Linked DNA regions of Homo sapiens: region 2 is linked to region 1. Evidence: fine-mapped expression QTL. A gene starts in region 1. The other region holds a variant in brackets. All regions are shown on one strand. Distances are between the middles of the regions. Region 1 holds the start of TBC1D23 (TBC1 domain family member 23). Region 2 has its middle 27 kb from the start of TBC1D23.

Region 1 (5,386 bases):
CCTGTGACTTGCACGTATACGCCCAGATGGCCTGAAGTAACTGAAGAATCACAAAAGAAGTGAATATGCCCTGCCCCGCCTTAACTGATGACATTCTACCAGAAAAGAAGTGTAAATGGCCGGTCCTTGCCTTAACTGATGACATTACCTTGTGAAAGTCCTTTTCCTGGCTCATCCTGGCTCAAAAAGCTCCCCCACTGAGCACCTTGGGACACCCACTCTGCCCGCCAGAGAACAACTCCCCTTCGACTGTAATTTTCCTTTATCTACCCAAATCCTATAAAACGGCCCCGCCCTTATCTCCCTTCGCTGACTCTCTTTTCGGACTCAGCCCGCCTGCACCCAGGTGATTAAAAGCTTTATTGCTCACACAAAGTCTGTTTGGTGGTCTCTTCACACGGACGCGCATGAAAGTTACTCCATTCAGAGGCCTTTCCCATCTCTTAATCTGATTCTGCACTAATATGTTAGCTCCAAGCCATGTGTGGATATTTAATATCTGAAATGTGGCTAGACCAAATTGAAATATAAGGTAGCTGTAAAATGCACATTGGATTTTGAAGACTTGGCACAAAAAAGATGTACAATTATCTAATTTTTTAAACAATGATTACATGTTGAAATATGTTAAATAGATTATTAAAACTGATTTCACCTGTTTCTTTTTAGTGTTTTTTTTTTTTTTTTTTTTTTGAGACCGAGCCTCACACTGCCGCCGGGCTGGACAGTAGTGGCTCGATCTCGGCTCACTGCAACCTCTGCCTCCCGGGTTCAAGCGATTCTCCTGCCTCAGCCTCCCAAGCAGCTGAGATTACAGGCACGCGCCACCACGCCCGGCTAATTTTTATATTCTTAGTAGAGACGGGGTTTCACCATGTTGGTCAGGCTGGTCTGGAACTCCTGACTTCAAGTGATCCGCCCGCCTCGGCCTCCCAAAGTGCTGGGATTACAGGCGTGAGCCACCGCGCCCAGCCTTCTTTTCAGTTTTAAATGCTGCTACTACATAATTTTAAATTACAATATGTGGCTTCTATTAGACAGCCCTGGGGCTTAAATCCTACTTATTCTTCAAAGCCTAGTTGAAACACTGCTGCTTTCATGAAGCTTTCCCCCAGTGACTCCAACTGCCCCAGCCCCCACCGCCAACCTCTCGTAACACTTTGAATCACACTCACAAAGAATAAGATTAATTTTACCTTGTTACACCTTCCCAACTCCAACATAAGCAAGTTGAAGAAAAAAAAACTATATCTAGATCACCATGAAGTTTTCCTCTGACACCTTGGAGAGCCCAGCGCTACGGTAATGTTTGATGTCTGCTAATGGAGAGCTGAATTTCTTAATTACTAATTATCTATCCCTTTCAACGATTTCCATTTTTTTCCTCTGGGATTAAAGTCGATGTCTATCAATGTCCTGTATTATTTTTAAAGTGCCCATGAGCTGTACACATACAATATAACGAACAAGCAAATCCAAAACTAATACATGTGGTCAATACACTTAGATCAACTGTAAAATTTAGACAAGCCTCTAAAGGTCCCTTTTTAAAAAATGATGTTGTACAACCTAACAGTGTATCGTGAGATCAACTATTTCAAAAGTAGAAGCCTTTCCCAAAGATTAACACTGGGTGAGCAGTTTACCAAAAAATTATTGGCGGTCTTCCCCCACAATCCCGAGTATAAATCAGGTAAGCATGCAACAGCTTGGGTGCAGTAAGAGCAAAGTCCCACACTGCATCCAAAGCTCAGAAATCGAGCTGTGAGAAATGTGGTAGTAGGGGAAAAGATGACTTGCGTGAAGGAGACGAACGATGAAAACTGTTGGAATGCAAAACGAGATAACAGCCAGAATAAAAAAAAGTATACCAACTAAGTGGGAGGGATTCTCCTCGGGTCAACCTCTGAACCCTCAGGCGAAGGTCGCAGTGGTCATTTCAAAACGTCTTTTCTTCACATTGTATTTTAGTGACTCAGATCTGCATCCAACAAACTTCCTTCTTCAGCCTACTCCAACTCCCACAGCCAGGACTCCGGCCAAACCCAGCCCTGAAGCCACCCACTCCAGCACACTTTGGAGACTGACAGACGACACAGGAGGACCGTTCTGAGGCCCAGCACCTGGATGACACCCCTCTCCTTGGGAGTCCCGCCCCAGTCCCTTGGGCAGAACCAGGCAGGCAGGGGGCACCCAGCTGGCAGAGGGGTAGGGCAGGGCACCGGACTTCGCCTAGGACCGGCCTCTCCGTTCCATGCCGACGCCAGACGGCTCCTCGGGGACCGGCAAGATGGTGAGAAGGAAGAATAAAGGGGCATTGGAAATTAGCCCCGGCTTTCACTCACCAGCCGTCGCCGCTCGACGTTGGCAGCGGCGGCACATCTTCTCCTTCCGCCATTGCTGTTGACGTCCACGTCACTTTGCCGAAAAGTGGATCCGGCGCTGAGACCAACTCCGAGACTCAATGTCGTAAAAGGTCTTCGGAAGTCCAGCACTGAGCTTCCCCAGAGGGGAAGAAAGAGGGAGGTGGCAAGGGACTGGAGGAACGCAACGTCACGGCGTCCCGAGGCCGAAAGGCAGCGTCTTGGGGGAGGAGACTTGGTGGAGGCAGCTGCCCCTCCAAAGACTACATGTCCCAAGATGCCACGGTGCCGCGGGCGGGGCGGGGCGCGGTGGACGCCGTCCCAGTTGGAGGCCTTGTGTGACAAACAGCGTGTCTTTTTAGCGTCCACTTAGCGTCTTCATTCCAGCTTGGCGTCGAAATTAACAAAGTTAGAATTTACAGTCCTAACTATTGGAGAAAGCAAGGGAAATGGGAATTGACATAGGGAAGGCGGACGTAGGAGAAGAGCCACAGTTCAGTAATTTCCTGCTGTAGCAATTTAATTTGAAGAAAGAGTGGGACGTAAGGAAAGGGGCAGACCACCCCTATTTGTGAGGCCCCGTCAAAAGTGTAAATGAAGGCCCACATACTTTTTGACTGAATATTTAAAAGTTGTAAATGAAGCTATATACTAAAGGAGATACGTTCTAGCCTCCTACCTTAAATATATCTTCCTAACAGTCTGGAAGATCAAGTCCGAATTTAGAATTCTAGGACTGGAATTCCAGGCAAGCAGAGCTGCCAAAATCCTTCTCTACGCGTTCCACTTCCCCTTTACACCGCATGGGCGGACACTTGGCCACCGCCGGGGCCTTGGGGTGAGCACACGCTCAGGAGGATGGACCTAAAGAAACGCTTTTGCAAGCCCTGAAAACAACAGTGATGAAGTAGAACTGCATGTAACAATATGGATACATCTGAAAAATACGCTGTTAAATGAGCAAAACAGATTGCAGACGGATAGGTAAAGTATGGTATCATTTATAGTTGGTGTTTAAAAGACAATATATTTAAAATAGATCCATATGAGTTTAAAATGCAGGAGAATGATATATAGAAAACTCGGAATGGCAGTTACATTCAGGGAAAGGGAGGAGTTTCCATGAATTTTTAAATATTTATTAAGGGCCCCAAGGTGGCCACATAGGTGGCCAGTGTTCTTTATAGAGTCTATACTTAGGTATCTAAAATGTTTCATAGTTTCAAAAACTATTTGTTTTAAATAGATACAAAACAGTACAGCTATCTCATTTACAACCAAAAACATGTTCACTCTCTTCCCTAAAGGGAAATAATACAGATCTGCATGGTACTGCACCCACTTCCAAGGCCCGGATCTCTGTAATGTTCAGTTCTCTGTTAGGGAACATTTCTTTTAACATAGAATGAGACTGTAGATGCCCTCTATCAAAAAGAATAAAAGACGTGAATCTAGGTCACATTACCATTCTAATATTCAGGACCTCCCCTGGGTCCCTTCAATTGTTGCCAGTAGATTTTCAGAAACTTTTCAGAAAATGGTTTTAAAACCTATTCAGTCATTGACATGAGAAGCAGTTGCTCACTGGTTAAGAAGATTCTAGTCCTCAATTATGATTCATTTTGAGTATAATTAAATCAGCAACTGCTTTATAGTCTCTGGTAAAATATTTTCCCATTAAAAATATGTCACTTGACATTTTTAAACAGTTCTTTATTCTGTCAAAATAAAGTGGAAAGTTCTGACTTCTATGTTCTTTAATGGAGCCAGAGCCAGCTTCATGGGCATGTAGTCTATGCAATAGCATGAGACCACATGCTTAGAAGAACTCTGTGCTTGATTTCATGCTCTGGTGTTGCCATCTTGAAATTCTTAATAATTTGGGAACAAGGAGCCACTGGTTTTAATTTTGCACTAGGCCTCACAAATTAGGGAGCCAGTTCTAGATAGGGTCAATATCTTAGTGATGTATAACCCATTGGGGACAAGATTTCAACCAAAATTGTTTAGCGATAGTGTCTTCTAGCGGATTTTTTTTTTTTTTTTTTTTTTTTGAGACAGAATCTCACTCTCACCCAGGCTGGAGTACAGTGGCATGATCTCAGTTCACTGCAACCTCTGCTTCCTAAGTTCAAGTGATTCTCCCGTCTCAGCCTCCCAAGTAGCCAGGACCACAGGCGTGTGCCACCACGGCCGGCTGATTTTTGTATTTTTAGTAGAGACGGGGTTTTGCCATGTTGGCCAAACCATTTTTCTTTATTATTATTTTATTTTTATTTTTCTGAGACAGGGCCTCACTCCCTCAAGTAGAATTTGTTAAATTCTAATAATGGACCTCTGCTTAAAACAAAACAAAAATGCTTTTCAAGAACTAGAGAAGATTTCATTATGAAATCTTGGAGTGCGTCCCCTGCTTGCATTTGTGCATCTAATTGTAGTTCCCACATCCAAATGGGAAGGTGTATTATTTCATATTATCCTTGGATAAAATCAAAGCGTATTTCTTATAACAAGAAAATTAAAATGTCTTAGTTTTAAATTAAATTATAGAGAACATAAAAAGATTTTTCATTTATTATTTGGTGTTCTGAGCCATATAATTATGTAATTTATACTGTATTACATGTACTTAATTTGTACCATGCCTATGACACATAGTAGAATCTCCATAAATATTTGTAAAATGAACTAGGGAATTTTTTGTAGTACTTTTGTAATGGATTAAGCTATTCACCTATATAGAAATGGCTGGTTGGGTTCAGGGACAGGTAAGGATTATGAACTCATCTGCATAGTCATAGTTGTTATGTGAGTAGAATTTAATTCAGTTTTCATTGTAATATTATTTTAGCATTTGTTAAAAAGAGATGGAGAAATAACATAGCTCTTGATCATTTATTCCATATTCGTGCAGCCTTTTCTTGACTTTCGTGCATTCTTAGATAAAGACAAAGACCTAGTAAGATGTTTTAATCTACTGCTGCACAACAAATTACCCCAAAACTCAATGTCTTAAAGCAATA
Region 2 (5,386 bases), 26 kb after region 1:
CTAAAGTCCAAGCTACTTGGGAGGCTGAGGTGGGAGGCTTATCTGAGCCCAGGAGGTGATGTGTATGAGATGTTAGTGTAATTAGTAATTTATTATTCTAAAGCACTGCTTGCTGCAAAGGGGAAGAAATGTACAATTAATACAAAGCACAACATTTCTTGATCTCAAGTGGATAAAGATCTGTTTTAGAGCTGGGCAACAATGTGAAAAATAAGTACTCTGAAAAAGTCATTTGTCTTTACCTAATTGTTTTCTTGTATAAAATGGAGATATCATAATAGCTTTCTTGACAACCTCCTAGGGTTTGTATAGCAACTGAGACTAAAACAAGATATCTTTGGCCTATACTTTAGAGAAAAGTATATACATCAGAAGTGACCAGCTTGATGAATTTTCAAAAATTGAACATGCCCATGTAATGAACGCACAGGACAAGAAAGAGAATGTTACCGTACCCCAGACATCTCCCTCATACCCCTTCAAATCACTAATCCCCTGCCAAAAGCATATTCTCTATCCTAGTCTCTGATACTATAGATTTTGCTGGTGTTTGAACTTTATATAATGGACGCACACAGTATGTACTCTTTTATGCCTGACTTCTTTTGCTCAACATTATGTTTGTGAGATTAATCCGTATTGTTCTGTGCAGTTATAGATTGTTCCTTTTCCTTGCTGTACAGTATTCAATTTTATGACAATACAATAATTGATTTTTCAGCTTCTCTGTTGATAGGCATTTGAATAGTTTCCTCTTCTGGCTTTATGAATCGGAAAATAAATATATGCCTTTTTATTGGATATATACCTATAAGTGGGATTGCATAATCATGGCTTGTACATATATTTGGCTTTAGTAGATATCACCAAACAATTATTCAAAATAGTTGGTCCAGTTAATACACCCACAAGTAATGTATGAGATATCTGGTTGCTATGTACTTTGCCAACACTTGGTATTTTCTCTGTTGAGATTTAATATACATAAAATAATTTGGTAAACCATAAATCTTCAAATGCACAGTATTTTCCAATTTTATTTTACTAATGTATTTGTCTTTTTCAAAGTAACTTAAGATGACTAGAAGGTAACACTGTGAATCTCACTTCACTACTTACAGCTTTCCTTCAGATTGCTGTTACCCTCTGGGGTGGCCTTAATTAAACTATGCCTTTGTTAGTCTAAGTAAAAGTAAGCCTAATAAACAGGTCAAATTAAAATTTTCTAATGTTACTTAAGTGTTTTGCAGAAATATTAATTATGCCCTTTAGTTCTGTAGACAACAGAAACAAAATTCTAATTCATAGAACCTGGAGAAGCTATAACACAGGCCAGGAAAATTTAGCAAGCAGCACGTATACTCATTTGAAATGCAAATCTCATTTCCTATGCATGTAGTTACCTAAACACTTAGAACATAATTCATCTGATTTCTTTTTATGTCTACTGCCTAACTTCTCTACACCTGACTTTATGGAATCTTTTAAGTAGTTCTACCCTAGATGGTTTGTTTGTTTGTTTGTTTGTTTGTTTGTTTTGGTGGGGAGGGGTGCAAATAAGATAAATGTTGGATAGAAGAGAGGAAGGGAAAACTCTATACTAAAAATGGCTATGGTTATTAGCGGACCAAGCACAGTTCTGGATCTGTTCTGCTATCAGACAAAAATGATGAAATGCTGGGAACTCTAATGACCAGTTGTCATCTTCCTCCTCACTCTCTGCAGCTGCTGACCCTAATCTTCCTTACTGCCTCAGTCTCCCCTTCAACTTGCTTTAAGTTGATGGGATTTTGCTCTGTTGCCCTCATTTATAGAACCCCACTTCCATCAGAGAGTGTGACTCTGAGGTCCTGTTTTAATTAATTAATTAATTAACAAAACATATTCACAAAATACCTTTTATGTGCCCAAGAAAGAGAACTCAGAGGTAAATAAGAGCCAGTCTGCCTTTAAATAGTTCACAGGCTAGTGAAAGAGATAGTACATATCTGGCTATAAGTACTAAAATAGCAATAATAAAGCATTGTATAAACATAAAAGGACTTCGTTATACAAGTGGATATAGCACAATGAGGAGAAAAATATTTCATTCTCCCTCCCTCTGCAGTTTCATTTTATTTTGTTACTTCAGTCTCAGGTTACAATTATAGTTATTTAACTGGAAAGAAAACCATAATCTGCAAAAGATATGAATGTAGTATCTATGATGGAAAATGCTTGTCTTTTATATTCTTGTTTCTTTGCTTTGGGTGTTTGTTTTAGTTTTTAGAAAAAAAAATTTTTGGCCTGTTTTCACAGTTCTTTCTGAAAATCACTGATGATTCCTATACTCAAAGCTCATGAGCTATCTTCTACTTGGGTTCACTTCTTTTCTGTTTGTTTGTTTGAGACAGGGTGTCACTGTGTCACCCAGACTGCA[A/G]TGCAGTGGTGTGATTGACCATAGCTCACCGCGGCTTTGGACTCCTGGGCTCAAGCAATCCTCCCACCTCAGGCTCCCAAAGTGCTGGGATTATAAGGGTGAGCCACCACACCTGGCCTTGGTCATTTCTGATACTTTATTTCCATCAGGCTCAACTTTTGCCTTTTCAGGGTGTCTCCTTCAGTTTTTTCCCCTTGTTTCCTTTTTATCTTCCCTCTCTTTTTTTTTTTTTTTTTTTTTGGCATTCCTTACTTTTTTGGTTTTGTTTATTTTGTTTTGCTTCTGCAGAGCAGCCTTCCTAAGAATCAGTTGAAATATTTCTTGTCACTTTTTCTCTGTCTTCAATCTAGATGACTTCTAACACCTTGCACTTGTTTTCTGAAAGACTTTCTTTCATATGTCTTTATTTTCCAACTTAGTCAATGTTGTTTGGTCCTCTGTATTGCTTAATTGCTGTTTCAAATGAACCTAGCTGTCACATGGTGTGGAGAGTGAATAGCTCACCTCTAGTTCTTGTCCTTCTCCACTCAGGCTCAGAAGCTTCTCCAAGCCAGTTGTTCAACAGCCTGTGGTGTGTCCATCCTACCCTTTCCGTCTTCAGCCCTTCTATTCATAGTCTTATTACATATATTTGAGAAGAATTTAATGGACATTTTCTCTTTATTCCTCCATATGTGCAAAAATAAAAGACTAACAGTTGAGCAGATTGGTAGAGTGTATACTAATGGGTGCATAGGAATCACTGGGGTATTCTAAAGGCAGATTTCCAGGCCTTGTTCTTAGAGACTTTGATTTGGTAGCTCTGGCCCAGGGCCTGGGAATCTGCATTTAACAAGCAACTCAGTTGCTTCTGATAGACGTAGTTCTAGGACCTAATTTTGAGAAACTTCATTGTGCTGTAAACCCTTTAATGTATTCCCATTTAATAGCCATACACGTAATGTACAGCTTTGAAAGGAGGCAAATCTGTCCCTGGCCCCTTTCTTCATGCAGACAGGCATTACCAGCAGCTTTTTTTTCTTTTTAAATTAATATACTTTATTTTTTAGAGAAGTTTTAGATTTATAGAAAAATTGAATGGAAAATCCAGGGGGTTCCTAGACTGCTTAAAGAGTCCCCTATGCTGTACCTATTCATCTTTCTTCCCTCCCCCAAAGCCCTGGCAATCACTAATCTTTTTACTGTCTCCATAGTTTTGTCTTTTCCAGAATGTCACATAGTTGGAGTTATACAGGATGCAGCCTATTCAGATTGGCTTCTTTCATTTAGCAATATGCATTTAAGCTTATTTTGTGTCTTTTCATGGCTTGATAGGGTGTTTCTTTTTATTACTGAATTGGAAAAAATGGAATGAATAATATTCCTTTGTATGAATGTGCCACAGTTTATCAGTTCACCTATTGAAGGACATCTTGGTGTTTCCAAGTGTTGGCAATTATAACTAAAGCAGCTATACACATTCATGTGTAGGTTTTTGTGTGGACATAAGTTTTCAACTCATTTAGGCAACCAAGGAGCACAATTGCTGGGTAGTATGGTAAGATTAGCTTTGTAGGAAACTGCCAAACTGTCTTCCAAAGGGGTTGTAACATTTTGCATTCTGACCAACAATGAATGAGAGTTCCTGTTGCTCTGCATGCTCTCCAGCATCTGGTCGCATAGTGTTTTTGTTTAGCCATTCTAAGAGTTATGTAGTCACATCTCATTGTTATTTTAATTTAAAATTCCCTAATGACATATGATGTTGAGCATCCTTTTTTTTTTTTTTTTTTTTTTTTTGAGATGGCATTTCACCATGTTGCCCAGGCTGGTCTCAAACTCCTGAGCTAAAATAATCCTCCCGCTTCAGCCGCATGAGCCACTATGCCTGGACAGCAGTTTTAAATTGTAATGAAGTCCAACTATCAATTTTTTTTCATGGATCATGATCTGATGTTGTGTCTAAAAACTTATCACCACTAAACCCAAGATCACTTAGATTTTTTCCTCTGTTATCTTATGTGAGTTTTATAGTTTTCCATTTTACATTTAGGTCTACGATCCATTTTGAGTTACTTTTTGTGAAACTGTTCTTTTCAAAGGGAAATACTGAGTGACTCTAGCATTGCCGGCACCCTCTTCTCCTCCAACTTTTCCCTCCTACTTTTTTTAATAGAAAATTTAAAACACATACAAAAATGGGGGGAAAACAGTATAATGAACCTCCGGGTAACAATAGTCCACCTTCAAAAAGTCCCAACATTTTACCAATTTTATTTAATCAATTACCCTATCAGCATTTCTTTATTTCTTTGTTTTTGCTGGAATTTTTATTTATTTATTTTTTTGAGACGGAGTCTTGCTCTGTTGCCCAGGCTGAAGTGCAGTGGCGCAATCTCGGCTCACTGCAACCTCTGCTTCCTGGGTTTAAGTGATTCTCCTGCCTCAGCCTCTCAATCAGCTGGGATTACAGGTGCCTGCCACCACGTCTGGCTAATTTTTGTACTTTTAGCAGAGACAGGGTTTCACTGTGTTGGTCAGGCTGGTCTCAAACTCCTGACCTCAAGTAATCCACCCTCCTCAGCCTCCCAAAGTGGTGGTATAACAGGCATGAGCCACGGTGCCCGGCCTGCTGGAATTTTGTAAAGCAAATTCTAAACATCATCACTTCACCCATATATATTTCAGTACAAGCACACCTTGGAAATAGTACAAATTTGGTTCCAGACCACTGTAATAAAGCAAATATTACAATAAAATGAGTCACACACCTTTTTTGGTTTCCCATTGCATATAAAAGTTATTTTTGTGCTATACTGTAATCTATTAAGTATGCAATAGCACAATGTCTAAAAAATGTATATACCTTAACTAAAAAATACTTGATTGCAAAAAAATGCTAACAATCATCTCAACCTTCAGCAAGTCATACTCTTTTTGCTGGTGGAGGGTCTTGCCTCCATGTCGGTGGCTGAAGACTGATCAGGG

The links. PIP is the estimated chance that this variant, and not a neighbour inherited with it, causes the effect. A credible set is the group of variants that fine-mapping cannot tell apart.
Region 2: its variant is the best candidate, but not a certain one, in a credible set for the expression of TBC1D23 in whole blood (INTERVAL, PIP 0.67).

Annotation. Positions count from the first base shown.
Region 1 is chr3:100,258,031-100,263,416 of GRCh38, reverse strand. It overlaps TBC1D23 (TBC1 domain family member 23), which reads right to left and starts at 2,425. Exons shown (of 19, transcript NM_001199198.3): 1 at 2,346-2,425. The coding sequence starts at 2,398. RefSeq lists enhancers at 1-346, 1,684-2,352, 2,128-2,617, 2,353-3,021.
Region 2 is chr3:100,231,609-100,236,994 of GRCh38, reverse strand. No RefSeq gene overlaps it. Among named protein-coding and RNA genes, the nearest start is that of TBC1D23, 27 kb to the left of the region's middle. The variant A/G (reference allele first, on the strand shown) is at 2,420.